Regions from separate parts of the Homo sapiens genome. Here all the other regions are linked to region 3. Evidence: fine-mapped expression QTL. A gene starts in region 3. Each other region holds a variant in brackets. All regions are shown on one strand. Distances are between the middles of the regions. Region 1 overlaps GOPC (golgi associated PDZ and coiled-coil motif containing). Region 2 overlaps DCBLD1 (discoidin, CUB and LCCL domain containing 1). Region 3 holds the start of GOPC (golgi associated PDZ and coiled-coil motif containing).

What was found. PIP is the estimated chance that this variant, and not a neighbour inherited with it, causes the effect.
Region 1: its variant is fine-mapped to the expression of GOPC in skeletal muscle (GTEx, PIP above 0.99). The same link has a PIP of 0.9 or more in esophagus muscle and tibial artery.
Region 2: its variant is fine-mapped to the expression of GOPC in whole blood (INTERVAL, PIP 0.99).

The regions. Positions count from the first base shown.
Region 1 is chr6:117,572,168-117,583,185 of GRCh38, reverse strand. GOPC (golgi associated PDZ and coiled-coil motif containing) reads left to right here. Exons shown (of 9, transcript NM_020399.4): 2 at 4,122-4,286; 3 at 5,715-5,738; 4 at 7,834-8,009; 5 at 9,554-9,719. Among named protein-coding and RNA genes, the nearest start is that of GOPC, 25 kb to the left of the region's middle. The variant G/ATGTG (reference allele first, on the strand shown) is at 6,157.
Region 2 is chr6:117,510,286-117,521,303 of GRCh38, reverse strand. It overlaps DCBLD1 (discoidin, CUB and LCCL domain containing 1), which reads right to left. Exons shown (of 15, transcript NM_001366458.2): 3 at 1,354-1,488. Among named protein-coding and RNA genes, the nearest start is that of DCBLD1, 33 kb to the right of the region's middle. The variant G/A (reference allele first, on the strand shown) is at 6,218.
Region 3 is chr6:117,597,393-117,608,410 of GRCh38, reverse strand. GOPC (golgi associated PDZ and coiled-coil motif containing) reads left to right here and starts at 5,900. Exons shown (of 9, transcript NM_020399.4): 1 at 5,900-6,407. The coding sequence starts at 6,123. It also overlaps the pseudogene NEPNP. RefSeq lists enhancers at 5,509-5,798, 5,929-6,018.

The sequences.
Region 1 (11,018 bases), 25 kb after region 3:
TTTGGCACTGGCAGGAGCAAACTTGGTTCACTTGGGTCTGCTGCACTCCACCCCTCATGGGAGGGAGTGTGTAGGCAAGCAGGTGTAGGAACTGGCCAGCTGCTTTAGTACCTGCAGGAGCAAACTCCATGCAGGCCCTGTGGCAGCATCCAGGTCTGGGTGCCTGCGATCCCAAGGCTCCAGAGGGCATGTTACAAGGTTCTCTTAGCTCTGCTGGACAGAAGTGTATTATCAGCTCACTGCACCTTTTGCCTTTTTGGGGGCAGCTGCCCTCCACCAGTAAGGGCAGAGGGCCAGTGTGATAGCCTTTTTGGGTACCTGCACTTGGTGGGTCCCGAATTCTTGTCTGGTGCCCACGAAGAATGAGGTAATGTGAATTCATGCTGAGAGCCACTTTCATTCACTCAATAAAATTCTCTGCATTGACCATCCTTCATCCATGAATTGAAGGATGGTGAATGCAGAGAATTTTATTGAGTGATGAAAGTGGCTCTCAGCAGAGAGGGGAGCTGGAAAGGGGATGGGAAGGGCATGTCACTCTCCCCTGAAGTCAAGTTGCCTCTCTCCGATGTCCAGCTACCATCTCTGAAGTCATGATGCCTGTGCCCGAAGTCCAGCTGCTTCTCCTCTCTACTGGCTGAGTCTGGGGTCTTTACTGGCACAGGATGGGGGGCAGGGCAGGCCATAGGTAGTTTTAGAAAAAACAACATTTGATTGGTAAAAAGACCTTTTTCAGAAAGAACCAGTCGGGAGAGAGTGGGCACACAGGGATGGAAGTTCTCACTTTGGGCTTCAGCTTTTAGGCTTGAAGATGGGGTTTTGCCGAGGACACACCCCCATCTGCCTAGAATTTCTCTGCCTCCTGCCTCTATCAATGTGTGTGTGTGTGTGTGTGTGTGTGTGTGTGTGTGTAGGGGGGGAGGCAGAGGGAGGGAGGGAGAGAGTGAGAGAGAGAGAGAGAACTTACAAACCACCAAGAAAAATATGGACAACTCTCTAGAAAAATAGGCAAGAGACTAACACAGGTACTTCACAAAAGAGGGTATTCAAATGGTCAATAAACATATGAAAAGGCAGTTAAACCTTATTAGCAATGAGGAAATTTTAATTAAAACCACAACAATATACCACTGCATCCCTACCAGAATTGCTAAAATGAAAAATACTGACAATGCCAAGTGAAGGCAAGGATATGATGCTCTCAAAGTTCTTATACATGGTGGGTATGTCAGTTGCTACAATCACTTGGAAAAGTGACCTTTTCTCCTGAAGTCTAACGTACATACTCTGTAACCCAGAAGCTTCCCTCCTAGATATATACTCAAGAGAAATATATGCAATATGTATCAAAAGATAGATTCATAGCAACATCATTTTAATAGTCAGAAATTCAAAACAACACAAATGCCCATCCAAAGTAGAATGAAATAGAATGAGAAGTAGAATTAAGTTGAGGGAAAGTAGAATGAATGAAAAATAGTAATGTTATATATTTATTTAGTGAATACAATATTGCTGAAAATGAAGTGCAGCTATGCAAAACAAGCTATGAACAAATCTTATAAGCATACTCAAACATTCAAAAATAGGCAAAACTATTTATGGTGTTAGAAGTCAGTGTATACTCTGATGGTTACCTTTGTGGATGAAGGTGGAGGTAGTGATTGGAGCGGGTCAAAAGAAGGATCCTGGGGTGCTAGCACTGCCCTTTTTTTTTTTTTCAAGATCTGAGTGATAGTTAAATAGGTATTTTTTGTAATGTGTTACTTGTGTACTTCCCTGATATGTTTATATATGAATTAAAAAGTTATTTAAAAAAAAGGAATGAAGAAGTTTTATTAATAGGGAGTGATCTCCAGGAAGTAAAAAAGCAAGAGGCAGCCCACTATTTATATTATGCCACATCTTGGTTAATTTATAGCATGCTACTTCTTTTCTTCTACCTCTTGGGCCATCCCAGACCTTGATACTCTGTTCTCCCTGTAACTCATAGGATATGAATTCACATCTCTGTGCTCCTAGTGTTAATCCAGATCCTACCTTTTCACTTATTTATTTTCTTTATTTCCTACATTCTGTGGAATATTTCCTGTTGATTATATCATGGTTGACACAAAATCAGCATGCCTAAAACTTAAATTTATCTTTTTCTTTCTCTCATGTCTATATAAGCTGTCATCCTAATCTTACTGTTTCCATCAATGGCTTCATTATTCTCAAAACTGGAAATACTTGCATTATTCTTGACCTAATCTTCCATTGCACATCCACTGTACTAGATACACTGTAACTAAGTATTGCTAACGATTTCTTTTCAGCATTGTAAAATCCTTTATTTTCATTTACAAAGTTACCATGATAACATGTCATTTGATAAGCTACAAATAGGACGTTGCTACTGTGTCCTTGTCTTCATTTCCTTAATAGTGTTGCTAAAATGCCATTGAGAGAAAATGCTTCAAAATTATGTAGTAACTATGGTTGTACAACTTCATGAATATACTAAAAACCACTATATTATTTACTTTAAAAGAGTGAATTTTATGATATTGAATTATATCTCAATAAAGGTGTTATTAAAAATAAAAACAAAAAATGTCACTTAGGGCATAGAATGATTTCCTGTTAGATTGAATATCAGTTTTAGTTTATCATCCAAAGCCATTCATTGTATTCAGCTTCATTTCTCCTATCGGGTCATATCCAGTCTGTCAGTATACCATCCCTTGAGGTAGTTTAGTCTCCTCGATAATAACATTTTCCTAGTCTAATAAGTTCTTTTGTATATAAGATTAATAATCTTATGAGAATAGTCAAAGCCATGGATATTATCACTGTTTTAAACTGAGGGAACTTGAGACAGAATGTTTTATTGAGAATCACAGGGCTAGTATTAGAATTTATTTCAACTTTACAGATACTTAAATTTGAGCATCTTTTATGCACTAGGCACTGGTTGGTGCAGTTGGGATATAGAGACATATCCCAATTATCTGATCCCTATCTATGCTCAGAGAGGCTTTTAGTCTCTCTGCCACTTTGCCTTTGCTAGTCTTCCCATGTCTATATTTCATTACTGCTTCTATTTTGTCCATGTTGTTGTTTTCCTTCAAAGCCCTTCTAAACTCACTTTCAGTATGAATCTTTTTCTTACTTCCCTTCTTTAAGCCTTCCTTTAGTTTGAATTCCTTGGGACTGGGTCAGTTCTCTCTCTGTATATAACTTGCCACATTATTTTAGTTGGTCCACATGTGTATTTATCAACCCAGTTGATATGAAAGCTTGTCAAGGGCATAAATTATGATCTATGATTTTTAAAAATATTATCTACAATTTTTTTTCTCATTGTGCTGGCATAGTTCTGGGCCCTTAGATGCTTAGCAAAATTATGTTGAGTTGAATAGGAAACAAAGGCATGTCTTGATCTTTAATCTACTGGCTAGCTGGGAAAACCAAAAACACAAGGGACACATCCTGTGCACAATTGTAAAACAATGTATCAATTGTACAAAAATGAAAACTTCAGACTGAATTGGTAAGTGGTCCTGATGAGTTGCTCTGCTATGCTAAAGCTGAAGACTTACAGTTAACTCTGATCTTTAGGCTTACCATAGTCTCAGAAGTTGATACCTTAGCACCTAAAATAACTTTACTAGATAATGATTGGGATGATTTGGGCTAGTATTCGTTGGATTGAAGACAGAACACAACTCACTTACTGACATCTTCTCTAATACTGTTAATGTTAGTGATCCACCACAGCACACATTGTCTCTACCACATGGTGAACCACCTCATAGTTTTGTGTTTTCATAAGCTTTGAAGATAAAGGTGAAACAGTAAAAAGGTTTCTTAAAGTAAGCAAAGTAAAATGGAAGTAGCATTCTGTGTTATTAGAAGATACAGCTTATAGTGGATTTCTCTTGCTACCGAAATATCTGACTTATACTATTGATTTTCTGTCAGTTTAGATGGATGTCTTGTATCTTGGATAATATTATTCTAATGTTTGTGTATTTATTTCAAAGGTAGTCTCTCTGTTGTCATTCTTGAATAACAATTATTAGTCAAAAGAAAGAAAATTAAGCATCCTTAATTTCTTCTATTGTTTTCTTTATAAGGCACAGTTGGTGGATCTGAAATCTGAACTGACAGAAACCCAAGCAGAGAAAGTTGTTTTGGAGAAAGAAGTACATGATCAGCTTTTACAGCTGCACTCTATTCAGCTGCAGCTTCATGCTAAAACTGGTCAAAGTGCTGACTCTGGTACCATTAAGGCAAAATTGGTAAGTAGTTTAGAGAGTGACATGCCCTTGCATGTATTTTACAGGGTGTACAGGACAATTTTGAATGAGACTTTTAAATTATAAAATATATGTGCTTATTGTGGGAAATTTAGAAAATATAAGAAATATAAAGTTTATGATCATTATGATAATCTACAATCTCATCACCTATAGATAATCAGTGATATCAACAATCAACTGATAGAATTTTTCCTATTTAAAATATATGTATAAATATGTTTAAAAGATATTTGTGATTATAACATATAAGATTTTTTTTTGCCCTACTGTATCAGTTGGATTAAATTCAGTTGCATATAACAGAAATCCCAAGTAACATTGGGATTATTCTTGAACAGTACTTATTTTTCTCTGAAATGAAATCTGAGACCGGCAGTCTAGAGTTGATACGGCAGCTCCACAAATATTAGAGATCCAGATTCCTTCCATCACTGTGCTCTGCCATTTTTAGCTTATGGTTTCCATCCTCAGGATTTCTTCATGTCTGCATTTCAGGCAGGAAGAAGGATTAATCTAAGGAAAGGGCAAAAAGATGCTTCTCCATGATGTTAGCCTTCTTTAAAGAACTTATTATTAAATCTTTCTCAGTAATTTTTGCCAGCATTTCATTGACCATCCCCAGCTGCATGTCAGTCTCCTATTGGCCATATGGCCACTTCCAGTAAAACTGGAGTCTGTTAATAAGGAAGAAGTAAGAAATGGAATTGGGTACCAACCAGTAGCACATTCTTTTCTTTTGCTCTTAATATATTGTAAGCATTTTTCCTGCCACTGTGTACCACATATGTTTTGAGTGTGTAAGAGATAGCAGATATTTTGTTCCTATATGGGACACAGCAATAAATAAGACAGCTATTGCTTGGCAGAGGCAGGACATGAAATGATGTTGATGATATAATGAGAGTAATACATTTATAAGTTTTATTTGTTTTCAGTTAATTTCATTTGGTTAATTAGTTCCTAGTACTGATGTGTTAAAATTCATGAAAATAATTTTAAGTTAAACTCTTAAGTTTTCTAACTCTGTGAATCTGTGTTAGAAGGGTTTTATTTAACTGAAATAAAAGCTCATAACTGCTTCTTCGAGCTATTTGACATTAACATTCAGAAACAATCTAAATTTTCTCTAGAAAAGAATTTACCTGAAGTTTTAACATTAGAATTTGAAAGAGTATGATGAAAAGAACACTGTACCAGTTATGTTGACTAATTTTGATAAAACAAAAAGTTTTAATCTAATGCTATTACAGTTACTATTGTTTATAGATTGCAAATATATTTGTTCTAATGAACTTTACCCAAATGATATCCAACATGTGGGATTTTTCCTTATAATGACTATACCACTAAATAAAATCATTTGTTTGATCTTTTTCTAATTATAAAACTTTTTTCTTATATCTGAAGTCTGGCCCCTCTGTGGAGGAGCTGGTAAGTATATTGTTTCTGTTTTGCTTTAATATGTCACGCTGAAGTGTTCTTAGTGTTTTATTTGCATATTATATGTTGTCACTCATTGTATTTGAAAATAGCATTAATAATGGCAATTTTTTAATGTTCCAGTACCTGAAAAGTTCAGTGGATGGCCCATTGCTCTTTTCTCACTGCATGTTGTTAAACATTTTTCTTTTGTTAGTGATTTATAGCCATTATTTGCAGAGCCTGTCAATTTTTGACAATTTTTGAGCCTTGTAGCTTGCTCATACCTCTACTTCAAAGAGCAATTGGTTTTCCCACTTCAGGGTATTGAAGATATATCAAGCAGGCTTAGTTTTTAACCCCCTTAAGTTTCTGTTTGAAATTATTTCCAGAAAAGAATGTGCATGTTGGTTTCTTCTTCATCTACTGC[G/ATGTG]TTACAACTTTTCAAGAGTCTTGAGAATAATCGTATGGCCTTTGAAACAATTGAATTTTGAAATGCTTTAGCAGAAGTTATTTTAGAAAATAACAATACATTTTTAATATTTTTCTCATTACCCCAACCTAATCAAGTTCCAATTTGTCTTATGGCTTTACCTCTTTTGAAGATATAATCTTTGGTATCTAAATGTAAAATGAACATCTTGGGTGTTACCTAGTAACAAACAGGTTAACTAAGAACCAAGAAAATTTTTTTCTGGAAATCTAGAAATGGTTAACTTCAGTTTCCTTCATCTTATTCTTGCTTACCTCTGTTAATTTCGGGCCCAAGAGTTTGTCAGATTCATTAGGGATTTGAATCATTAAAACCCCAGTGAGTGGTAGCTTAGTATGTCTCCCACATTTCATTAATGTAGTATAAATAGCTCATTAAAGTAATTGAAAGTAGGTAATCATCAACATAAAGTTTATTTAGCCCATAAGCCAAAGAAATCTTGGTCTAGGAGTGCTCTTTCAAAAGTTGCATCAACTTTAACATGTCATAAGAAAGATTTTTGTTTGTATCTCCAAACTGGTTTCTTTTGAAACAGATACTTGCCCTTTTAGGACATAGGTTCTGAAATAAGAGTTTAATAATTCCAAAATTATGTTAAAAGGAGGATTCTAGATTGAGTTTTTCGAATCCTTTAAAACCAGTATCTAGAAATTACGTTCTAATCTTTTTTTTCCCAGAAATTGAGTCTGCTAATCTTTCATCTGTTTGTCATATATATAACAAATATTTTTAATCAAAGAAGTGATAAATATATCTAGCATTTAGTAGTTGTCATTAATTTTAGCTTGTATGTGTGTGTGTATATGTAAATATATTTTTTTTAGGATTATCGTATTTATTGACTAGTATTCAAATATATCTATTTTGATGTTGTTCAAAACAGTAGACCAAAGGAGGCACATTAAATTAGTACCAAAATATATTCCATGAATTGCTGAAAATTTGCTTAAATTTGTTTCTTAGCTTCTCAATATCCAGAATAAAAAGGGAAATAATTATGTAAAATAATCAGTGCCCATACAATAGAAACAATACTATTCATCATTTCCTCAAGAGAAACAATTTCTCTGGTGCTAAGGTAGGTTTTTATTTACGTCCTCACAAAAGGGACAAAGGGGGTATAGGGAATAATGTCTTCCACATATTGTGAACAAATGTAACCATGTTTTCATAGGATTTGTGGATTCTGTAAAAGCAGTTCTGCTCAGGATAAATGCAAGTTTTCAGTGTTTACGTGGTTTTTTTGATCTATAAATAACAGTTAAAATGTCTATTGGGGTCCTTATTTAACTCTCAAAAGGGTTTTAGAAGTAAATAGCAGATTCAACTATCCATTGAAGCCACTTTTACTAATATGTGATAACATGAGCTTAGAGTAGACTACTTTTCTTACTATACTCCATATCAGGGTAACCCATGGCGTGCAATTATTTTATCTAGAAGTAGTTCCAAGATGTTATGGTACTAGTTCAAAAGAACTACATCCAGATCTTTGTGTTCCATTTTATAGAGATGATACATTGTTGAACTGTAGGCTTTTGTGCATTTTCAGGAACATGGTCTAGTGCTAAAGAGTTTTTATTTTCATTAAATTATATGCTTTTAAAAATTACATAGGAAAGAGAGCTTGAGGCAAACAAAAAAGAAAAAATGAAAGAAGCACAACTTGAAGCTGAAGTGAAATTGTTGAGAAAAGAGAATGAAGCCCTTCGTAGACATATAGCTGTTCTCCAGGCTGAAGTATATGGGGCGAGACTAGCTGCCAAGTACTTGGATAAGGAACTGGCAGGAAGGTGTGTAAAAAATGGGTATTATTGTACTCTTAAGTGACAAATTGGATATTTAATGAGGTTGACTCTTACTTCTTTCTTTTTTTATTTTTTATTTTTTTGAGATGGAGTCTTGCTCTGTTGCCCAGGCTGGAGTGCAGTGGCATGATCTCTGCTCACTGCAACCTCTGCCTCCTGGGTTCAAGCGATTCTCCTACCTCAGCCTCCTGAGTAGCTGGGATTACAGGTGCCTGCCACCACGGCCAGCTAAATTTTGTATTTTTAGTAGAGATGGGGTTTCACCATGTTGGCCAGGCTGGTCTCAAACTCCTGACCTTGTGATCCATCCACCTTGGCCTCCCAAAGTGCTGGGATTACAGGTGTGAGCCACCGCACCTGGCCTACTCTTTTTTCTTATGGTAAATGAAGCATTAATCTTTTTCCTCAGAATTATTTTACAGTTGGTTTTAACTTACTGTTGTTAAATTAATACTGACAGCATTATGTATCGCAGATCTAGTTATCCATACTAAATATGTTTAGTTTACACACACAAACACTGATAGTATCTTACTGTGAAATGCTAACAACTCTGTAGAGCAGCACTTTTCAACTATTTTGTGCCTTGAGACCAGTACAGCCGATATTCACATGCATAGCAGAACTTCCATAAGGAATTCTTTTTATGATCACTGAAACCCAGTCTTTCTTGCCCTTCAAAAAAACGTGTTGGTATTTAGTTAATGACAATGATTTTATCATAATCATACACAGAATTCTGCTGTATTTATTAAGTAAATTATTAACAAACTTTGGTGACTTATTAGTACTAAATCATTTTGTGCATATTCTTTTAATGTCACATTAAAAACATGGAACAAAGAAAAAATAATTTATATCATCTTGAAGTACAAATTTTCTAGTAACTTTTTTTTTTTTTTAAATTTTGTGAGATGGGGTCTCACTCTGTCGCTCAGGATGGAGTGCAGTGGTGCAACGTTGGCTCACTGCAGCGTCCACCTTTCAGGCTCAAGTGATCCTCCCACCTCAGCCTTCCAAGTAGCTGAGACCACAGGCATGCCACCATGCCTGGTTAATTGTTAAGGTTTTGCCTTGTTGCCCTGGCTGGTTCTAGTAACTTTTAACCACATTTAAAGTAATCATTTTGTGAAAAGAAACTCTAATTAGAAGAAATATTTTTGTCCATTTATCTCATCTAAAAGCTAACATTTAATAGTATCTGAGTTCAGTGACTTTGCATGCAAGACATAGATTGACATTAATCTCATAAATTTTTTTTTAGATTTATTTGAATTAAGTATATGACTAAAGGAGTTCACATTAATTCCTTTAAAAATTTTTTTTACTGGTTTTTCCCTTGAGGATACCTGTTCTTTTCAGAGTTTTCATATTTTTTTTATATCTGAGAGACATCAAGAAGTTCGTGAGTATTAGTTTTATCACTAATTTGAGATTCATGCAAAAGCTACTTATGTTCACTAATTTTCCTGAATTCTCACTGTAGTGAATATAATGAAAAATCAATGTACTCTTTTCCCAATATGAAGGGTCCAACAGATACAATTGCTAGGACGAGATATGAAGGGACCTGCTCATGATAAGCTTTGGAACCAATTAGAAGCTGAAATACATTTGCATCGTCACAAAACTGTGATCCGAGCCTGCAGAGGACGTAATGACTTGAAACGACCAATGCAAGCACCACCAGGCCATGTATGTTTGCTTTGCTGCTGCTTCCCACCCAGCCTCTTCTTTCTTTCTTTAATCACAGTTGCTTTCCATTCTTTCCTTTATTCTAGTATTGTTTGAAACCTTTATTTAAAAGTGAAAATGGGATTCAACTTATTCAAAGTAGATGAAGTTTCAACACCCATAGAAATTTTAGTAGCTCTTCACAGACTTACTAATGCCCTGAGAGTGCTGCAGACAGTGAGCCATTGTTAGCAAATGCATATTGCTATAATGTTGGATCATATTTCCAGTTTTTCCTGGATCATGATTGGGCATGCTTGAATTTGTTTTAATCTTAGCTTAGAGTGTGTGGTCATATTGATAATTTGGCAGATATTTTGGGGTAGTTCTTTAAGGGAACTTTTAGTAACTGAATCCAAATGTAGATTCTGAACTAACATTTACACCTGTTTGGTCTTGGATTAAGATAGAATTTGAGATCTGTAGCCAGTTGTCTGCTTCTGTAGCCACCATTATATAAAAGCTTCTATCTGGATAAATCTTTATTGAATTTTATCATAACAGCTGCTTGATAATATAGACCTTAATATATGAAAGCATGTCTCCCAAGGGTTCACATATCTTAGTACCAGATAATGTATGGCCTTAAATAGTAAAATAGTTTGTTGGCTCTGCAAAGATTTTTGTAAGAAGAATTGGTATGTAAATAGAGTTGGTGGAAGAGAAGTGGGGATAGCGATAAGCACTTATGCCATTGTTTTCTAGGGCACTGGTGGTTCCCATTAACTTCTAGGTCCAGTAGATTTGGGAAATGGAGCGGTTAGGAGGAAGACAAAGTAGTTTGTATCAGATGTGTCTGAGTGATAAAAGCATGCTTGTTAAATTAGCTAAATATGAGGTTGGGGTTTTAGGTAGTGGCTGGATTATAGAAATTATTTTATACTAAATAGAGGAATTTTAACTTTAACCTGATAATCATGGAAGTTTTAAATAAAATGGCAGACTTCATAAAATTTACATTTTTTAATAGTTATTTTGGTATAGTGAAGAGGACCAAGTTGGAGTCAAGGAGATATATTAGAAAGATACTATGGTCATCCAAGGAGAAAGTGATGAGGTCAGGAGAAGTGGCATTTGAGAAGAAGGATAGATTTGAGAGGATTATAATCAGGAGGGCTTGATTGGTGACTAACTGCTTTTGGTTAAATAGTGAAAAAGAAGAGTCTGGGCTTTTAGTTTGAGCAACTGAGTGAGATCTGGCATTCACTGGGAAGGGAAATAGAAGAAAAGGAAGGATTTGGGGAAAAGATGATGAGATCA
Region 2 (11,018 bases), 87 kb after region 3:
ACAATCACCTAGTAAATGATAGCAGAATCTGTAGTTAACAGAAAAAAACAATACTCTTTAGTTGCTATCCACTATATGCCTATGAAGACCATGTGTATAATGTCCCCTGGCAGGAAGAAAATAATTTCAAAAGCCCAACACAGTTCACAGAGAAGGTTCCCACAAACATTTTAATTCAACAATTTAGCCAGTGGCATCTGGTGACAGAGAAGCACATCTTTACCAAGAAAACCTACAGCATATAAGCTTTCATCAACCAGGACAAAGCATTTTAAAAAAGAAGGTGCTCTCTGGAGTAATTTACAGAACCAAACTAATATTCAGCAATAGAGGCTAAGATACAGTGGACCTTGATGCATTTAGATCAACATAGTATGGTTTCCAAAATATTCCACACTTACTGTAATAGTTCTTTGGGAGCAATATATGGTGAACACTGGCAATGCAGGCATCTGCTGTGATTAGTCAGAGCTGATTGGCTAAGAGGAAAATGAATGGCGCACCTCACTCCCAGAGCTTTTCTGCCAGAGAGGACTGACAGCAGAAACCTCTATGACCATAGGCAGATTTGGTATGGGCTGCACAGAATTACTCTGAAGCACAAGAGCCCAGGACAGGAGCCCGTGCTTCTCTCTCTCATCAGTGTTCGTGTTTCCCTTCCCTTCTCTCCCATACAAGTTTTCAGCTTTAAAGTTATTACACTGTGTGACACTGACTTCCTCATCCTACACACACTGTGCATGCCTCCCGTGCTGGTGTACTGGCGTGTGTTGCGGAGGGGCTCACTGGTGAAAAGCGTTGCCCCTGAGCTAGGGAGGAGGATGGGGGAGGGCTCCAGAGAATAGTGAAGACTTCGAAGGGTCAGGAGGGGAACACAAAAGTGTGTTATCCAAGGTTTTTAGGAAAAATGAGATGAATCCTATCCCATATAAGTCAACTGATCAATCTAACATGCTAATAAGCTTGTCCAACCCATGCCCCTTGGGCCACATGCAGCCCAGGATGGCCTTGGATGCAGCCCAACACAAATTCCTAAAGTTTCGTAAAACATAATTATAAAAATTTTTTGCAAATTTTTTTTAGCTCATCAGCTATTGTTAGTGTATTTTATGTGTGGCCCCAAGACAATTCTTCTTCTAATGTGGCCCAGGGAAGCCAAAAGATTGGACACACCTGTGCTGCAATATGATTCAGTTCAGACCTAACCATTTACAAAGATACCATGTTCCTCTTCTCCCTCATATCTTAATTCTGCATCTGAGTCCACAATTATGTCCAGGGATGGGGATAAGTGGCAAGAGGAATTCTTAGACAGATAACATTTAGAGATTTGTGTTGATTCTTCCGTTATACCTGGATGGTCGCTGCTCGCATAGGTCAGCAAAAAACCCCGGCCAGAAATGTGGGATCCACTCTCAAAGCGGACGGTTACTTCACTTGTGTTCAACAAGAGTTCTTTGGGAACAGTCATACTTCCACAGTATGGACCTAAAAACAAAGCACACTTGTGGCACATTTCAAAATTTATACCAGCACAAATGACTGGTATATGGCATTTTTTTCCTTGAAAGGCCAAATTTACTAGACAATACATATGTATGATTATAATCTTTACCAACTGAAATTTAGCTTGACGCTCAGACTGATAATTTCTGACTGATTGTGAACTAAGCCAAGGGGGAAAGTGGCTTACTCTAGACAAGCAATAGGCTGGAACTAGTTAACTGTGAGCAACCCAAGAGATAGGTTTTGTTTTTTGTAAAAAGAAGACAAAGGTCAAACACATTAGGTAGTAAAGAAAATTTTATTACAAAAATGTTATTCTAGGGGCCTCCTAAATTTGCTCAAATAAACTAAAAAAATCATTTTTTCGGGGAAGTTTTAAAGTTAAAAGACTTTGCAAAGCATGGTAAGAATTTTATTCACATGCAGCATTCACATGCAGCATACACACTGATTTTCCTTTACAGTAACTTCTGGTTAATCCCCAAAATTCATTTTGATTTATAAAATGTACATAAAAGCAGAATAATTTCTAAAGCATTTTGAAATATTATAGTACAAAATTATACAATTAAGGGTATAACATTGTTTCCAAAATAAGTTGCTTGAAAAGCAATAGGGATCTCAATGAACTTTCAAAGGGCAAAATTACATTTGGAGCTTAAAATAACGAAAACTCTTCCTAAGACTACTCAAACTGAAGTTTAGCTTTTAACTTGTCATTTCGAAAGTAACATACGCAAGACAATCTCTATGAAATAGAGATTAGCAAGCAAATTTTGAAGAGAGGTATTATTTATTAACTTTTCTCAAAAACAGTATGGAAATAGTCAGCGGCAACAACAATCATGATGAAGGAAGAAGAATAAAAGAAAAAGACTGCTCCAAGTCAATACGAATAAAACCGGGTTATATTAACCAGAACCAATAGGGACAAAACTGCTTGATATGGTTTTGCTGTGTCCCCACCTAAATCTCATCTTGAATTCCCATGTGTTGTGGGAGGGACCTGGTGGGAGGTAACTGAATCATGGGGGAAGGTGTTTCCCGTGCTGTTCTCATGACAGTGAATAAGTCTCATGAGATCTGATGGTTTTTTAAAAAAGGAGTTCCCCTGCACGAGCTCATTTCTTTTGTCTGCCACCATATGAGACATGTCTTTTGCCTTCTACCATGATTTGAGGCTTTCCTAGCCATGTGGGACTGTAAGTCCAATTAAACCTTTCTCTTGTAAATTGCCCAGTCTCAGGTATGTCCTTATCAGCAGCATGAAAACGGACTAATACAGTTAAGTTGGTGCCAGTAGAGTGGGGTGCTGCTGAAAAGATACCCGAAGATGTGGAAGTGACTTTGGAACTGGGTAACAGGCAGAGGTTGGAACAGTTTGGAGGGCTAAGAAGACAGGAAAATGTGGGAAAGTTTGGAACTTCCTAGAGGTTTGTTGAATGGTTTTGCCCAAAATGCTGATAGCGATATGGACAATAATGTCCACGCTGAGGTGGTCTCAGATGGAAATGAAGAACTGGTTGGGAACTGGAGCAAAGGTGACTCTTGTTATGTTTGAGCAAAGAGACTGGTGGCATTTTGCCCTTGCCTTAGAGATTTGTGGAACTTTGAACTTGAGAGAGATGATTTAGGGTATCACGTGGAAAACATTTCTAAATAGGAAAGCATTCACGAGGTAACTTGGGTACTGTTAAAGGCATTCAGTTTTATAAGGGAAGCAGAGCATAAAAGTTCAGAAAATTTGCAGCCTGACAGTGCGATAGAAAAGAAAATCCCATTTTCTGAGGAGAAATTCAAGCCAGCTGCAGAAATTTACATAAGTAATGAAGAACTGAATGTTAATCCCCAAGACAATGTGGAAAATGTCTCCAGGGCATGTCAGAGGTCTTCAAGGCAACCCTTCCCATCACAGACCCAGAGGCCTAGGAGGAAAAAGTGGTTTCCTGGGCCAGGACTAGCATCCCTGTGCTGTGTGCAGCCTAGGAACTTGGTGTCTTGTGTCCCAGCTGCTCCAGCTATGGCTGGAAGGGGACAACGTAGAACTCGGGCCAGGACTTCAGAGGGTGCAAGCCCCAAGCTTTGGCAGCTTCCATGTGGTGTTGAGCCTGCAGGTGCATGGAAGTCAAGAATTGGGGTTTGGGAACCTCCACCTAGATTTCAGAAGACGTATGGAAATGTCTGGATGCCCAGGCAGATGTTTGCTGCAGAGGCCCTCATAGAGAACCTCTGCTTGGGTAGTGCAGAAGGGAAATGTGGGGTCAGAGCCCCCACACAGAGTACCTACTGGGGTACCATCCAGTGTAGCTGTGAGAAGGGGGCCACCAGACCCCAGAATGGTAGATCCATTGCACCTGAAAAAGCGACAGACACTCAACACCAGCCTGTGGAAGCAGTGGGGAGGGAGGCTGTACCCTGCAAAGCCACAGGGGTGGAGCTGCCCAAGCATGGGAACTCACCTCTTGCATCAGCATGACCTGCATGTGAGACATGGAGTCAAAGGAGATCATTTTGGAGCTTTAAGATTTGACTGCCCCACTGGATTTCAGACTTTCATGGGGCCTGAGCCCCTTTGTTTGGCTAATTTCTCCCCATTTGGAATGGCTGTATTTACCCAATGCCAGTACCCACATTGTATCTAGGAAGTAATTAACTTGCTTTTGATTTTACAGGCTCATAGGCAGAAGGGACTTGCCTTGTCTCAGATGAGATTTGGACTGTGGACTTTTAAGTTAATGCTGAAATGAGTTAAGACTTTGGGGGACTGTTGGGAAGGCATGATTGATTTTGAAATATGAGGACATGAGACTTGGGAGGGGCCAGGGTCGAAATGATAATGGTTTGGGTGTCCCCACCCAAATCTCATCTTGAATTCCCACGTGTTGTGGGAGGGACCCGGTGGGAGGTAACTAAATCATGGAGGAAGGTCTTTCCCATGCTGTTCCCATGATAGTGAATAAGTCTCATGAGATCTGATGGTTTTAAAAAAAGGAGTTCCCCTGCACAAGCTCTTTTCTCCTGTCTGCCACCAGGTGAGACGTGCCTTTTGCCTTCCACCATGATTTGAGGCTTCCCCAGCTACGTGGAACTGTAAGTCCAATTAAACCTTTTGTAAATTGCCCAGTCTCAGGTATGTCCTTATCAGCAGCATGAAAATGGACCAATACACATGCTAAAGAGTCAGAAGATCGTGACCCAACTAAGCATTGCCCTTCTGGTATAAAGGATCCAATTTCTCTCTGTTTCAAGTTTCACATACTGAAGATGTGATAGAATAAGAAAGAAATGCTATATGCTTACCCTCACATGCCAAATTTCTAGCATTTCCTATCACTAAATTATGGTGAAATCTAAATAAAAGATGTTCACTTCCCTCTTTAGAAACACTCATCATACGTAATTACTTACATGAGTTAATACTTTCTTTTTTTTTTTTTTGAGATGGAGTCTCGCTCTGTCCCCAGGCTGGAGTGCAGTGGCATGATCTCGGCTCACTACAAGCTCCATCTCCTGGGTTCACACCATTCTCCTGTCTCAGCCTCCTGAGTAGCTGGGACTACAGGCACCCACCACCACGCCTGGCTAATTTTTTGTATTTTTTTTTTTTTAGTAGAGATGGGGTTTCACTGTGTTAGCCAGTATAGTCTCGATCTCCGGACCTCGTGATCTGCCCGCCTCAGCCTCCGAAAGTGCTGGGATTACAGGTGTGAGCCACCGCGCCCGACCAATACTTTCAAATTACTTAGAATAGTACTCAGCACATAGTAAGAGCTATATAAGTGCTTGTTAAAAATGAATATATTAAAAAATAAGTAATACCTATTTTCTCTTCAGACTGTGTTCCATAGTGCAAGGAACTTTTATATCCATCCCTTTATCTCCAACAGACTGCATAGTACCTGGCAGGTGACAGCCTCCCACAAACAGTTTGAATTGAATTGAAATGCTCTTTTTACAACAGTTTCTAAAAGCCAAATCCAACTAAGAGATTCATAAAATATTTTTAATCGTGTCACTTTTAAATACTATGGAGAAGTCAGGAAGAGAAGTGTAAAGAAACAAGAAAAAAATTTCTGTAATGAATAATATGGATTTTTATAAACTTTACTCTTGCTCACAAGCACAGCAGATAGGCAATTCAGACTAAATAAGTAGAATGATAAGCATTTTTGCAAAGTTAAGGTGAGTCAGATTGCTGTACTTGCCTTTTCCAACTTATTCTGTTTGTTTTAGATATGTTTGAAATTCCTCTGTTCTTTGCACAGATAAGAGGGGTGAAGACACTTGCTTTGTAAACCTAAGGATGAATATTGTGAAGTAACTAGTAACTTGTTGCTTTTAATAAGTTAGAATATTTTCAAATCACATTTTTTTATATTAACCCAGTAATACACCCCTCCCCAAATGGTGATGATGATAGTAATCTCTCCTTAAATTTCTATAGCATTCCAATGAGTTCTAATGAAAACTGTAGGTGGCCAGGCACGGTGGCTCACGCCTGTAATCCCAGCACTGTGGGAGGCCAAGGTGAGCGGAGTCAGGAGGTCAGGAGTTCGAGACTAGCCTGGTCAACATGGTGAAACCCCATCTTTACTAAAAATACAAAAAAAATTAGCCGAGCATGGTGGTGGGTGCCTGTAATCCCAGCTACTTGGGAGGCTGAGACAGGAGAATTGCTTGAACCTGGGGGGTGGAGGTTGCAGTGAGCCAC[G/A]ATCCCACCACTGCATTTCAGCCTGGGTGATAGAACAAGACTCCGTCTCAAAAAAAAAAAAAAAAACCCACAAACTGTAAGGTAAGCAAGTCTAAATTGATTATCAGTGAGAACTTGCTTAGATTTTTTTTTTTAGATTTTATGAAACAGTTGAAAGGAAAAGTTGCAAAAAGTATACATATTTTACACAAATGAGAGTGTATACCATCATACTAAGTTGTTGTGCAATATATATGATTTCCTAGACCAAAAACATGTAAATATAGTAAAACTCTAATTTGGTTTCATCCTCCCAGTTATGATAGGCATGTAACTATTTCTGGAAGCAGATCAAAGAAGGAAAATGTAAACACATGCCCCTTTAATTACCCTTACCACACAGACATCAATCCCTTTCATATTTTTATTACTGTGCTGCAAAATTGTAACTAGAGGGGTAGGAGATACCCTCTCTATATAAATATCATCATTGAGAGGATTTTTTTTTTTTTTTTTGAGACAGGGTCTTTCTCTGTCACCCATGTTGGAGTGCAGTGGCGTGATCACGGCTCCTCCTGGGCTCAAACAATCCTTCCACCTCAGCCTTCCAAGAAGCTGGATTACAGGTGTGTGCCACCATGTCCAGCTAATTTTTTGATTTTTTTTGTAGAGATGAGGTCTCACTACATTGCCCAGGTTGGTCTCAAGCTCCTGGCTTTAAGCAATCCTCCCATCTCAGCCTCCTCAAAGTGCTGGGATTACAAACATGGGCCACAGCGCCTGGTCTGAAGAGTTATTTTGATCATTTCATCATAATCACAAACATCAGAATAGCAAGAATGAGTTTTAATTCAGGGTGGGGGATAAGAGTTGAATACTGGCTGTAGTATTGCCTATGGCAAAACATCCAAATTATTGCCTGTCTCAAGGTCTGACAGACGAAAATTCCTTTCATAGACTAGAAGTTAATAATTACATTCCTAGAGTTAAAAGGCAAGAAAGAAAAATGGAAAAATATGATAGCATTGAGAGGGAAAAATAATTAATGGGAAACCACGGAAAGACCCTGGGAGTCTGTCCTAAGCAATGTCCTCAGTGCTCCGCCAGACTCCTTTAAGGATAATCTCTTGTCTTATGAAAGAAAATCTTTCTCCACTCACCCCTGCCCACGTGATATACTTCACTGTTGGTACTCTCCAAAGGTCTCCTGACTTTTAAAAAGGATCTACACCTATATTTAAATGTTTACAAAGACAATTTCACTGGAAACCCACATGAGAGCGCGGTGACTTCTAACTTTGATTGTGGTTATATTCTTGGGCTCAGGCAGTGTTCTTAGATTGGCAAAAATACTTCAATTCAGTCAGACTGAAATCCAACCCCTTCCTAAAAATAGGATGCACAGTTTTGCATGGATGTTTGCTTCAGAACCAGCAGTGCTACGTGTTTTATAGCACTTGGACTTGCCACCTAACTTCCTACTATTCTCTCACTTCTATCTATCCCTGTCTGCAAGGCAGGTTCCATCTTACTTTGCAGTCACAAATTCCCATCACACTGGAGTGCAGCAGTTAATCAAGTAGGCAGAAAAATCAGGAAAAAAGAAAAACTTTTATCTTTTGTGGAATGTAACTGGCGGCCCTATATTGTGGGAAGAGCTATCAGAGATACCAAATGGAACAGCACTGTGGCATTTGGCACCAGACATGAGACTCCAGCAGACAATGGGCTGATTCCTTGGACAAAGGGAATAAAGGGCCAGGAACTGTAGGAGTTGCCTTCTTTGAGCACAGTAGGTCAGTTCCTCTCAGCACATTCCCTGTTTCGGGCTACTATTTCATTAGCAGCTGCAAGGGAAACCCTTTATCTTTCCATGTGTGAATAAAAGAAAGCTGTCCTATAAGGAAGAATAAACTGTCTGCTACAAGCCAAGTCTGAAATCCTCTTGATTCTCTGGCAATCTGACAATCTGTACAGCAATGTATAGTACTTCTCTATTCTCCTGGACTGTGTGCCCAAGACTCTGGGCATTACAAGGCAATGATGGTTTGGTTAAAAACTGTTTGTTCCAAGTCACTTCAGATGGATATAAGGTTTTGATCTTAAAACTAATAAAACTAAGTTATTGTTTTATATATAGAAGGGACATGTTTGAAAAATAGTATGCATGTCATTAGAGAAACAAAGAAACCTCTTTCCCTTAGTAGTATTATTTCTGATTTTTTTTTTAACTACCATACTGTCAGTGGGAAAAACCACTGAGAGATCAAATAAAAACCTAACTCCTGAAAGGTCTGTCATAAATCGACAACAACAACAACATAAAACCTCCAAAAAACCCTCATTAACCTTCTGGAGCATCATCTGAAGCACACAATTCTTTCTTATGACAGATAAGAACATGCCTGATTGACCTAAGTGACCCTCCCTGGGAGTACATGTGGGTGGAGACAGCCACATGGAATATTTGGCTGCCAGGCGAGTGGTACTTCTCGTGGCCCAGATCTGTGCTCAGAGGTATGCTGATAAAACAATCTCCAGAAATGCTGAAGCTGCAAACACCATTAGATTTGTGTCCATTTTCAATTTGTTTTTGATGCAGTCAAATCGCAGATTTGTCCTTGCTTGCTAATTGCAGTAGGGTCATTGTACAACATTACAGAATTTTCAAGGCCATTTTCTTTGAAAAGGAGAGAAATTAGCATAAAAAAGGGATATTCCTGGACTGTGCCATTAAAACCATAGTCACGTAACAGTAAGTGGTATCCCTGGAGAATTTTGGTCTCTCATTCCCACACAAAAATCAGTGACAGATGATAAATGAAGCAGGCGGATTCTTAGACAAAGGTGTGGCTTTCCTTGGGGCTACAGGACCCAGGTCAAGAAGTGTGTCAACGCTGGGAGTTCACAACCCACTTAAGCCATTACTTCTCTCCCAATGAAAGATGGCAATTACTGAAACTGAATCACAGTGAGTCTCCAGGGAAGTATTTATGGGGAAAGAGGAGGAGGAACCCAATAGCTTTTTCTCCTTGAGGCTTATGGTTGTGTTAAAAAAAATACCTAGAGTACAGCATTCTGGCTGATATAACGTTTTATATGTTCAAGATTCTTTCTGAATTCTATCTTGGCATAAAAGGCAAAATAAAACAAACAAAGAAAAAGCAGTCCTTCTCAATAATTTCCACCAAAGTAGCCTCAACCATAGAGGAGGACGCACTTCTAGGGTGTCTGCAGCCCAAAACAGCTCTCTGTGAGCTGGAAATTTCCTTGAAGTCTATTTGTTTTATCTTTAAAAGCCATAAAAATTTTTCCTTCTACTTCATAATATGTCTGAGAGACATATAAACCATTTGTAAAACAGAGACTGTCAATCTTGCGCTTTCCCCTCTTTGGGATTTAAAAAACTTCAACAGATAAGTTGTAATTATTAGATCTTATTGCAATATGTCAGATATGTATCATTCTAAAAAATGACATGCAGAAACCTGTTGTGATTATGAGTCTAACCACTTCGCATTATTTCCAACTATTCCTATTTCTCTCATTCCTAGTGTAACATAAACATTAACAGTTGACTTCACATGATTGTGCTTCTAAGTCACTGACAATGCTTAAAAAAATATTGTGATTGGAAGTGGAGGTACAGAAAACGTAGGAGAACAATTTTTGAACTTCCTGGTGCAAATCATTATGCAGAACACAACCAATTTAACTTCCATTAGGATCCTATAGTAAAGAGTTTCTTTCTATCACTGGCCACCATGCCTCCTCTTAGCATTTTGACTAAAAAACATTTTTTGAACTTTCAACTTATACTGGAACTCTACGTAAGTGATTTCTCAGACTCCCACTTTATTCTCCGGATACTCCTGTGGAGAGGCCTGGAGAAGTTTCCATTTCTTCCAGCAAGTGACGAACAAGAACTACACCTCAGGTCTTCTTATGCACAAGCCACAGGAACAGATGGCTTTCAACACAAACACTGAATCGGATGGTGCAGAGCTAAAGAGTAGGGCCTCTGGGCATTTGAGCAGGGCCTCAAATGCCCAGACTTGAATCCCAGGTCCCGCTAAGTGATCTTACAAGCATGTTAGTTGGCCTTCTTTGAGCTTCAGTTTCCTTAGGTGTAAAGGTTGGTAACAGGACCTATCTCACAGGGCTGTTATAAGGGTTAAATGAGGTAGTAACGCTAAGGTTTACTAAGCCCAGTGCATCGCACATAGTTGAATGCTCACTCACAGGCACCTTCCACATTATTACATGGTCTTTTCCACATAATAAGCATAGTTTTAAAATTTTATGTAAACCAAAGCTTTCTTTAAATGCAGAGGGAATGTTTATAGAGGAATCTTAGTGTAAATTTCCCTACAGTGTGAATAATGACACTCCAATTTCTCTTTTGTAAAAATCCAGATTTTTTAATATGTTTGCCAAAATCAAGCTACTTATAATCTCAGTCCTAAAACACTGACTGAACATCTGCAATTGTAAGACGATGCTAAATATTAGGTGAATAAAAGAGCATGAATAAAACGTAATTCCTGGCTCAGGGCATCCCGTATCTGACAGAGAAGCTAAAATAATTATCCCAACCCGAAACTGATGCTCTACTGAAACTTTAGAAAGAGAACATGAGCACAGAAAAGGGACAAACTGATGAACATCAGAGAAGGTTCTAGGGTAGGCAGCCCTGAATTTGAAACTTGAAGGGTTTACTTTTACGTGTGTGTGTGTGTGTGTGTGTCTGTGTCTGTGTGTGTGTCTGTGTCTGTGTGTGTTAGAAGGGACAGAAAAAGCAGGAAAAGAAGAAAAAGAGGGG
Region 3 (11,018 bases):
TGGCGTATCAGTTTAAGTTATGGATTGCAAGCAACAGAAACAAATTCTGGCCAATTAAAGCAGAAAAAGAATTACTGAAAGAAAATTGGGTAGCACAATGAAGTATAAGAATGCCTGGAGAATGTGAATTGGAAATGGCCAAGAATAAAGGAAGGCTGCATAGTCAGAATCACAAGCAAAATTGCAAAATTGCACCTCAGTTGAGTGAGGACACCATTCCTGCTGCCACTACAGAACACGAGTGCACCAGCCTCTACCACAAACCTGAATCTAGCACAACACCAACACTAGCATGGCTGCTGCTGAAACTGCTATCTTCACTCCCTCTCCAATCCCTACCAAAAGGAATGCTCCCAATCCTGCCTCACTATCTCCATGTTAAAAATTTCAGGTGGATAATTCTAGTTAGCTGAGTCTAGGTCACAGCCCTGTGCTCTACCTGTCACAGAGTCAGGAAAGTGATCATCTGACATTTTCAGCTTATTATGGAAGAAGAATTCTCTCTCTCACCAAGTAACATAAAATGGGAAATTCCCTAGAGGAAGGGAGCTCAAATATGGAGAGTATCCCACATGTAGTGACAAATTTTCACTATAGAAGTCTTTTCATCCTAACTCCCTCTGCTCACCATGGCCACAAAAGCCAAACAAATTCTGAGTGAGTTACAATCATCTGGGGACAAAACAAATACTATCTCCAGCAATTGTTGTGATAGAGCTTTTTGTGTAATAGTTTCACTACACTTTTCTGACTTTTAGTTTCTTTTTCTTTTTCCTTTTTTTTTTCTTTTTTTTGAGACGGAGTTTCGCTCTCATTGCCCAGGCTGGAGTGCAATGGTGCAATCTCGGCTCCCTGCAACCTCTGCCTCCCAGGTTCAAGTGATTCTCATGCCTCAGCCTCCTGAGTAGCTGGGATTACAGGTGAGTGCCACCACGCCTGGCTCACTTTTGTATTTTTAGTAGAGACGGGGTTTCACCACGTTGCCTAGGGTGGTCTCGAACTCCTGACCTCAGGTGATCTGCCTGCCTCGACCTCCCAAAGTGCTGGGATTACAGGCATGAGCCATGGCACCCAGCTGAAATTTCTAATTAGATAACTTATACTTTTCAGTCAAAACTCGAAAAAATAATTATTGTTGAAGGGTATTTGGAATACAACTGTTTCGGAGGCCCTTAGTAGACTAATTTATAAAAAAAAAAACAGAAGGTGATGAAGGAAAGTCTATGTTTGATCCATACAGTCTGACACTTGAGAAATAAACAGTGACTTCACAGTGGACAAAAGAAGAAGAAAACATGAGTAGGAAACTCTGATACTACTGTTGATAAATGGTGGTTTCAGACAAGGCTGAAGCAAACCTGGAGCTGTGGGAAGTGGTAGATGAAGAATGTACATCGGGGAAAAGGGGAAAAGCAGTTATAGTCTGTCTTTGATAGTGTAAAATTTATTATGTTTTGGTTTTAGGTTGAATATACTATACAAAACATAGTATCTAGTAAATTTTAACAATGGAATAAGCAAAAGAATCCTTGAAGCCTAAATTATAATGGATTTATTAGTCAAATAAGCCAGATCATTGTAAAATAAAACTTTAGGTTTGGAAAAGAAAGACTAATATGTAATTTATAGATATCCTAATCTCTGAGGCAATATAAAAATATATTAATATTTAGCTATGCTCTCTAGCATGTATCACAAGTATGTCTTGAAAAGTGAAGTGACTGTTAGTTTCCTAGGTAGAATGATCGAATACCTTAATTATTGAAGTTATCACACAAATAGTTATAGCATTCCTACCACATTCTAGGTCCTGTGTTAGGACCTGGGATACAAAGATAAGTAAGATACAGTTATTGTTGCCAAGGAACTCACAGTCTAACAAGCTCCAAAATAATATGATAAATGCGGTAAAAGATATTTACAGGAAACTAATTGGGGATGGAGCCCATAGCATCATATGAGGAGAAAGAAGGAAGGCTTCCTGGAAGAGGAGGTGTCTGAGCTAATTCTAAATCACTGTACCAAAATTCTCAAGTTTTAAAAACAAGAGAGCAAACAGTTGTCCTGTTTTTTGTTTGTTTTTGAGACATGATCTCATTATGTTGCCCAGGAGGGTCTCAAACTCCTAGATTCAAGAAATCCTCCCACCTCAGCCTCTCAAGTAGTTGTGACTACAGGTGCACACCGCCACACCCAGATCCCTTTGTTTATATAAGGGAAATAATCAGGAGAATAAGGCTAATAAATCCCTTTGGATTCCTAAACTTACTTCTTTAGCATATGTATCTGAAATTTTCAAAACTGTTGGTAATATGAATAATAAATTCAATAAATATAAATAATATGTATGAATACAACACTCCAAACCTTTCCTACATTGATTAAATAAAATGCTAGTGGATTTTTACTTTCTTCATTCACCATACATACAACTTGTTATAGCCACTAACAGCATATACTTAACCCCTTCTCTTGGTAGGGTTACTGGAAACTAAATGAAACACGTGAAGTTAGGTACAGGGCCTGGAACACAGTAGAGTTCAATAAGTGATAATCTCCCTCTCCAGTCCAAGGTGGGTCTTATACACCCTTTTATTACAGTGCCCTTGCAATCAATGATGCTCCATAAATATTTAAACTATACACTGACCCCGCAGTTAATTACCAGTACCTATCAAAGAAACCCTTAGCATCATCTCTCTTTCCCCAATTTCCTCAGTCTCCAACCAATTTATTTTTAGTAATGCCTTGTGACAAAACTCTGTAGGGATAAGTTCCTAAAACAAGAGTGTCACATTTAAGTTATATTTTTTAAAAATCACATAAGCATGATTCATAAAACAGTTATTGGAAGCTTCTGCCAATCCAACTGCAAATAGAAGTATCAAGACTTTAATATCTGTGGAAAAACAAATCGCTCAAGTATTGACATTACATGCAATCTCCAATTCCAGAGTAGGTAAGGATAAGGCAGTAAGTGTAGATAGAGTACACCGACAACAGATGGCAGCACTTGAACATCAAGCCCCGATGATAAGCCCTCCTTTTCACATCCATGTTCTGCTGTGACTTGCAGATTTGCATAACCTCAATCCAGGTGGGCAAAAGATTATGTCTACATACTACAGTAATGAGAAGGGACAACATGACATGAAACTCGTCTGAGACACAGATGAGTCTATGACTTGTTGAAGTTGTAAAGGTAATAGATACGAAGCTGGGTTCTGCAATCTCGAAAATGGGGGTACCCACAAACCATTAGAGCACTGGAAACATATAAACACTTAAAATGTCACTCAGCTGCACCCACACAATGTAGCTGGAAGTTGATTTTTTAAAGAAATGAAATTTATACTCAAGTGTGGTTCATATAAATTAGAGTTACAAGTAATAGAAAATGAGTTATTACAATTTTTGGTAATGGTTCTTATATGTTAATAGATTTGTATATGGTTTCTAACTAGGAAGAAATTAAAAAGAACTTTTGGAACTTACTTGCTAGTTTATTATACTGCTAACTTTTACAAGAAGAAATAGATTCCTTCATTCTTCTGTATTACATGGTTAACAGCAACAACTTAGGAGAAAAAGACACCTAGATTGATATACTACCTCAATCTCTTTCTAGTTTTGTGACCTTACCAAGACACTTAAGCTGTCTGTGACTTTAGCTGTTAAAAAGTGATTACTGGGTGTGGTGGCTCACACCTGTAATCCCAGCACTTTTGGAGGCCTAAGCAGGAGGATTGTTTGAGTCCAGGAGTTCCAGACCAGCCTGGTCAACAAAGTGAGGCTGCAGTGAGCTGTGATCGTGCCACTGCACTGCAGCATGGGCGACAGAGCAAGATCCTGTCTCAACAACAACAATAAAAGACGTGATCATACCTACCTCATAGGATTTTGTAAGGATCAAAGAATTAAAGAAAATAGCATAATGCCTAACACATAGTAAGGACTCAATAATTGAAAGCTATTATAATTGTGGTTCGATGTATTCTCCCCCTGCCCTGCTAATTTTAAATTATTTACTTCGCGTTCCTGAAAATGCATTGCTAACTGTATTATGTGTAGATAAAGTGGCTGGGAGCTTGATAGCTGTAGCAATGTTTTTGCAAATATTGTAGATGAAAATAAAGCTAATTTTGGAAGGGAATGGGGAAAGATGTAAATTTTAGTTTTACATTATTTATTGTGTACTAAAACCTGTATGAAGGTCCCTACTTAAGTCTAAGGTCAGGATCTCATGATCCATTTTGATTAGCTAAGTTTGCTCAAGCCAAAGGACTTTATTGCTTCATGCTAACCAGTCTGCCATGCAGTACAAAGACTGCAATAATAAAATTGTGATTTCTTGCTCCTCAGTTGCCTTGCATCAGCGAAGGGCACACAATGCAGGCTTTGGGTTGTGATTAACCGTAAGGGTCTGCCCCAAGAACAGATAACAGCAGACTGCACTCAGCTAAATATGCTTCTAGGTAATGCAGGAGTTTCCACCAGCCTACTCTAATCACACAGGTTTCTCTTTCCCTTTCTAGGACTGTCTACCCTTGAACTGGAAGTAGGCAGAATGTAAAGAGAGGAGTTGCTGGATACTTTTAAAGGCACTGAAAAATTCAAGTTAAAGTTATAGTTGAGGGGTAGTAGCCTCACTAGCCTATCTTGAGTAAGGGTCATGTCTCATTCATTTTTGTGTCTTCAATGTCGCAACAGAGCTCTGCATTCAATATATTTGTAAATATATGAATTCACAATTTTGATTTTCTGAAATGTCACGTGTGAGGACACTACCAGTTTTCAAATAAATACACCTTTTAAAGTACAGTTATGTGCCAAATAACAAGGCTTCAGCAATGAATGGATCGCATAAACTATGGTGATCCTATAAGAGTATATGACTGTACCTTTTCTATGTTTAGATATGTTTAAGTACACAAATAGTTACCACTGTGTTATAATCGCCTACCGTATCCAGAATGGCAACATGCTGTACAGGTTTACAGCCTAAGAGCAATAGGCTACATCATATAGCCTGGGTGTGTAGTAGGCTATACTATCTAGGTTTGTGTTTAAATACACTCTAGGATGTTCCCTAAGGGATGATTAACCTAAGGACACATTCCTAAGAACATATCCCCATCTTAAGTGAAGCACTACTGTAGTTGCTTTTGAAATGTGTGACCTATGGTGTATTAAGAGGAATACCGTGTGCCAAGAAGTGACGCTAAGCGTTTTACCTTACAACTGAGTTAAGTAAAATTTGGAAACTTGGTTTCGAGGTTAATACATGAAAGGCGACACAGGTAGTATGTGACAGAGGGTAAGAATTGAATCCAGGTCTACCTGACTCTTAATCACAAGACAAAAAGTCTTCTATTAATTCCGCAAAATCTGGTCAGCCGCTTCAATGCGCAGCTTTAGGCAGTCCACACCTGGAATTTGGGGTCTGGTTTACCAAGAACAGCCAGTGTGTACACCCACTCCATCCTATCCAGGAACTGGAATCGAGAAGGTAAAAACGTGGCTATTGCGCATGCTCACACCGCCCTTCCTTGCTCTCCCCTCCCTGACCCTAGATGCCACCGCAGCAACTTTCTGGGAGGATTTTGGAACGGCTCCCGCCAACTGTTAAGTCAAACCGGCGGAAATCCTTCCTTTCTGCGACGTGGACACCTTTCTCATCCTCGGGCCTTTCCAACCAGGGTGCAGAAACCACGCGCCTCCGTTTCTCAGGGATTCAAGCCGTAGTTTGCCAGTTGTTAATATGGCCGCTGACAGGCCGCTCCCAAGCTGAGGCCTTTCATAGGCCAAGATCGCATCCTGTCCCCGCCTATTTTGTCCCTCGTGGCTGCGTCCGCCCAGCTCTTCGCTACGCATGCGCAGCGGGGGCAGGCTGGGAGGTGGGACTGACTGAGTCTTCCGTGTGTCGCCGCCGTTGCCGCCTCAGCTTCAGCCTCGTTACTCCTGCGGTTCTGTGACTGTGCTGCTGGCGTTAACGGCGCGAGGTGAAGGGAGGTGACGGAGTGTGCCCGCGCGCGCGGGGGTCCCCTCAGTCCCAGCAGTTCCCTTCGTGCGCGGGGGGCGGCGAGGGTCTTCAGCAGTCGGGAGAGGCCCTTGACGGCGCCATGTCGGCGGGCGGTCCATGCCCAGCAGCAGCCGGAGGGGGCCCAGGGGGCGCCTCCTGCTCCGTGGGGGCCCCTGGCGGGGTATCCATGTTCCGGTGGCTGGAGGTGCTGGAGAAGGAGTTCGACAAAGCTTTTGTGGATGTGGATCTGCTCCTGGGAGAGATCGATCCAGACCAAGCGGACATCACTTATGAGGGGCGACAGAAGATGACCAGCCTGAGCTCCTGCTTTGCACAGCTTTGCCACAAAGCCCAGTCTGTGTCTCAAATCAACCACAAGCTGGAGGTGAGCCGTGGGTGCTGGCGGCTATGGCATCCAACCCCAGGCTGCCCGGTGGCGTCAGATGCCATTTAACGCTCCAGTGAAACGACCCTAGAAAACTGCCCACCGGGGCTTCAAATGTGATGGGAGAGTGCATGTCTGAGGAGTGAGGTGAGGGTGGGGGACAAAAAGGGCCCTAGACCGACGTGTGAGTTCCCGGGGTACTGTCGTCCACCTTCCTAGTATCTCTCTGAGGAGGAAACTAATTACATACACCAGCCTCCATTGCACATGTTACATTAACAAACCTAACAAAGATTCTCTGTCATGAAAATACCGTAGGCCACCTTTTGACAACTGAGTTTTGCAGATCTGCTTTCACATTGATAAACCGAATTTGTATATGTTAAGACAGATACAGCACTGATTATTTTCATTTTAATTATTCCAGGTCAGCGCCTATGATTGCATACAGAGACATGCATAAACTATTTAGGGGAATCTGATCAAAGCTCTTAGGAAAATTTCGTGGTGCATAACGATAGTATCACTGTCTCGGTTTACATCCATAGTTGGTTGTTAAATTACAGGCAGATACCTCCAGAGAGCTCCCTGCAATTATTGAAATTACTTCTGACCTTGAGTTTTTATATGCTTGTACATTACTGTGTAATTTTCCAAAGTCTGGATTTATTTTTGAGAGAGTGTAAAGAATCATTTGCTTTAATCTCTGATCCTGGGTGTGGGTGAGGGTGGAGTGGCTGTGGTTCAAAAAAACAAAAATATCATATTGTGCAGAAAATTTAAAAAGGACATTATTAAAATATTTAGAAATCAAGATAGATTAACATTATTGCATAAAGAGTACTTTCTAACTAGGCAATTTAAGAGAATGGGTCTTTCTTTTCAAAAAGTGTAATAGATAAAAATGGGATAATCAGTGATGTGCAAAACTCTGAACATGCTTTCCTAAGAAATCATCATTACTCGTTGTCATTGACAGTGCCCATTATATCTATATCAATATGAATGTCAGTTAAACATCCTCTCCTTGCCTAGTGGTCAGCATTCTTTCTCTCCTATTAGCCATGAAATATGTGGCATAATTAATCTTTGATTAACATAGATTTACATATCCAAGAATTGTGGCTCTTCTCCACTGCGAGAACTGTTAATTTCTTCTATCCTTTTTGAAAAGATTAGAAAGTGCTAATATGAAGGTAATCACTTCTTACTGTAGGTAAATGAAAACATCTCTTGATTTCTTTATTGGTAGTAATTTCCACAAGAAAGCTATTTTTCTCAGATAGTGAAATTGCATTTAATGTTTTCTAGAAATAGTACTTTAACTTTATTTCATCTTATTTTATCTTATTATATTTTTTTCAAAAAAGAGATGGAGTGCTTTGTTGCCCAGTTTGGTCTTGAATTCCTGGCCTCAGGTGATCCTCCTGCCTTGGCCTCCCAAAGTGCTTTGATTACAGACATGAGCTACTGTGCCTGGCCATTAGTTCTCTAGCTTTAAACAACAAAGATCAAGAGTAGCCTTTACCACATGGTATAATTCGAATGTGTCCCCCAAATTTCGTGTATGGGAAACTTAATCCTCAATGTGACAGTATTGAATCTCCAATGTGGGGCCTTTAAGAGGAGACTGGATCATGAGTACTCTGTTCTTATGAATGGATTAATCCACTTATAGATTGATTTGTTATTGGATAAATGGATGAATGAGTTATCATAGGAGTGTAGAACTGGTGGTTTATAAGAAGAGGAAGAAAGACCTGAGTAAGCATGTTAGCATGCTCAGCCTCCTTGCCATGTGACACCCTATGCTGCCTCCATACTCTGCACAGATCCCCTGCCAGCAAGAAGGCTCTCGACTTCTCGAGATCTGGCCCCTCGACCTTGGACTTCTCTGTCTCCATAACTGTAAGAAATACATTCCTTTTCTTTATAAATTACCTAGTTTCTGGTATTCTGTTATAAGAAACAGAAAGTGGACTAAAACATCACACGAGAAATTTCATATCATTTACAACTGCAGTATCAACTGGGCATTAACAACTTTTTAAAAATGAAACAATATTTTATTTATTTTTAAAATGACCTAAGGAAACTTTAAACAGGGATTTGATGTCAGATATAAAAATTGAAATTGGGAGGAAGGATAATTTTCTCAGTAGGAGGCTGTGCTCCATTTTTTTTGTCTTTAAATATTTTAGATGAGTATTCAGAATTGTAATAAATTATGCATGTTCTTTTTTCAGAAATTAAAATCACACATTCTGACTTTATGTCCTGGTTTAGGAGGTTGCATTGTTTCTCAAAATAGGAAATGCTAGCATATCACAATGTGAGCATATTTTTTATGCTTGAAACTGTTGATTTAAAGATCATAGGAAAATGGGGAGGGGAAAAATCCTAATGATTTTGGTTTGTTTGTTCATTTGTTTGTGTTTTTTCAGTTACAGTCAACTTGTTTGTCTTTGATGTTAATCTGTACACGTTTAGCAGCTTCTGCCGTTTTTATGGAATCAATTGTGTATTGCTGTGGAAAGAAGTTCATTGTCAGCAGTGCCTTTCAAAGTAGACTTGCTGCTGTTCCATCTACAGAATTTCAGTGGTTGCTCCATATATTGTTTGAAAGCTTGAAACAATTTCCATATTTTCTTGCCCTTTTTTACTTTTTAGGAAAAGGATTGAATTTGTTCTATTGTTTTAATTATATGGACATTAAGACATATTTGAAACCACTTATGGTTTAATATGACAAACGTGACATTCAGTGGTTTCAGAGGTTAATACCTTTAATCATATTACTGTAATAAAATATTTTTATATAATGAAGAAACAGATACCTCCAATTTGGGTAATTTATAATGTAGTTAACATTAAACACTATATTTATTATTAAAATATTAAATTTTGCTGCAAAAAAATCATAGGTTACTTTTTTACTTGAATAGGCTATTAGGGCTATTCTTTTTTATTTTTAATTGACATAATAGTCGCATCTTTTTAGGGGGCACAGTGTGGTATTTGGATACACATAATAATGATGAAATTAGGGTAATTAGCATATCTGTCACCTCAAACATTATTCATGTTAGAAACAATTCAAAACCTGCTCTTCTAGCTGTTTGAAAATATACATTAAGCTACTATTAACTGTAATCATCTTATGGTGCTATAGAATACTAGAACTTTTTCCTCTTATTTAGCCATAATTTTGTTACCCCGGGCTGTGGACCAGTACTGGTCCGTGGCTTCTTAGGAACTGGCTGAACAGCAGGAGGTGAGCAGTGGGCAAGAGAGCATTACAGCCTGACCTCTGGCTCCTGTCAAATCAGTGGTGGCACTAGATTCTCATATAGATTCTCATAGTAGCACAAATCCTGTTCCTGTTGTGAACTGCACATGCGAGGTATCTGGGTTGCCAGCTTCTTGTGAGAGTCTAATGTCTTTTGTTGAAACCATCCCCACGCTGTCCTGTGGAAAAATTGTCTTCCACAAAACCAGTCCCTGATGCCAAAAACATTGGTGACCGCTGTGTTAACCAACATCTTCCTACCCGCCTCACCCTTCCCAACTTAACAGTAACCACTGTTGTATTCTCTACTTCTATGAGGTCAACTTTTTTTTTTCTTTTTTTGAGACAGGGCCTCACTCTGTTACCCAGGCTGGAGTGCAGTGGTGCAATCATAGCTCACTGTGGCCTCCAACTCCCAGCTCAGTTGATCCCTCTGCTTCAGCCTCCCAAGTAGCTTGGACTACAGGCATGAGCTACTATACTCAGCTAATTTTTCTATTTTATTTTTTTTTTTTTTTAGTAGAGATGGGGTTTTACTATGTTGCTTAGGCTGGTCTTGAACTCATGGGCTCAAGAGATCCTCCTGCCTCAACCTCTCGAAATGCTGGTATTACAGGTATGGGCCACCATGCCTGGTAAATCAATTTTTTTAGCTTCTACATTTGAGTGAGAACATGCATTATGTATCTTTCTGTGCCTTGCTTATTTTTACTTAATGTCCTCCAAGCTCATCCATGTGGTCTTCAATGCAGGATTTCATTCTTTTTTATGGCTAAGTAGTATTCCTTTGTGTATATATACCACTTTTTTTTTTTTAATCTTTTCATCTGTTGTGGAAATATAGATTGCTTCCGTATCTTGGCTATTGTGAATAGTGTTGCAATAAACATGGGAGTGCACATATTGTTCAAGATACTGATTTCCTTTTTAGGGGGCATATATCCCTAGTGTATATGTTCTATTTTTAGTTTTTTGAGAACATAGATTACATCTTAAAATTAAATACAAATGATATCCATGTGACTGCTTTTTGCCATAGCAATATTTGGGAAGAGTCATATCTGAGGAGAATGGAATAGCAGAGAATATCAGTGTATTTTGAGGTGGTGCCATTTCAAATTGCTCACATCTCTCACACTTTCCACATGCTTGTGAGTTTTTGCTGTCATGAGCCACTTGATCATGGCTATGCTAGAATCATAGGCATTGATTGGAATAGTAGTGGCACTGTGGAAGAAAAAAGAGAAACTTTTTATCTGAAGAATGTGCCCCCCTTCACCACTTCTATTCAATGTAGTACTAGAAGTCCTAGCCAGAGCAAT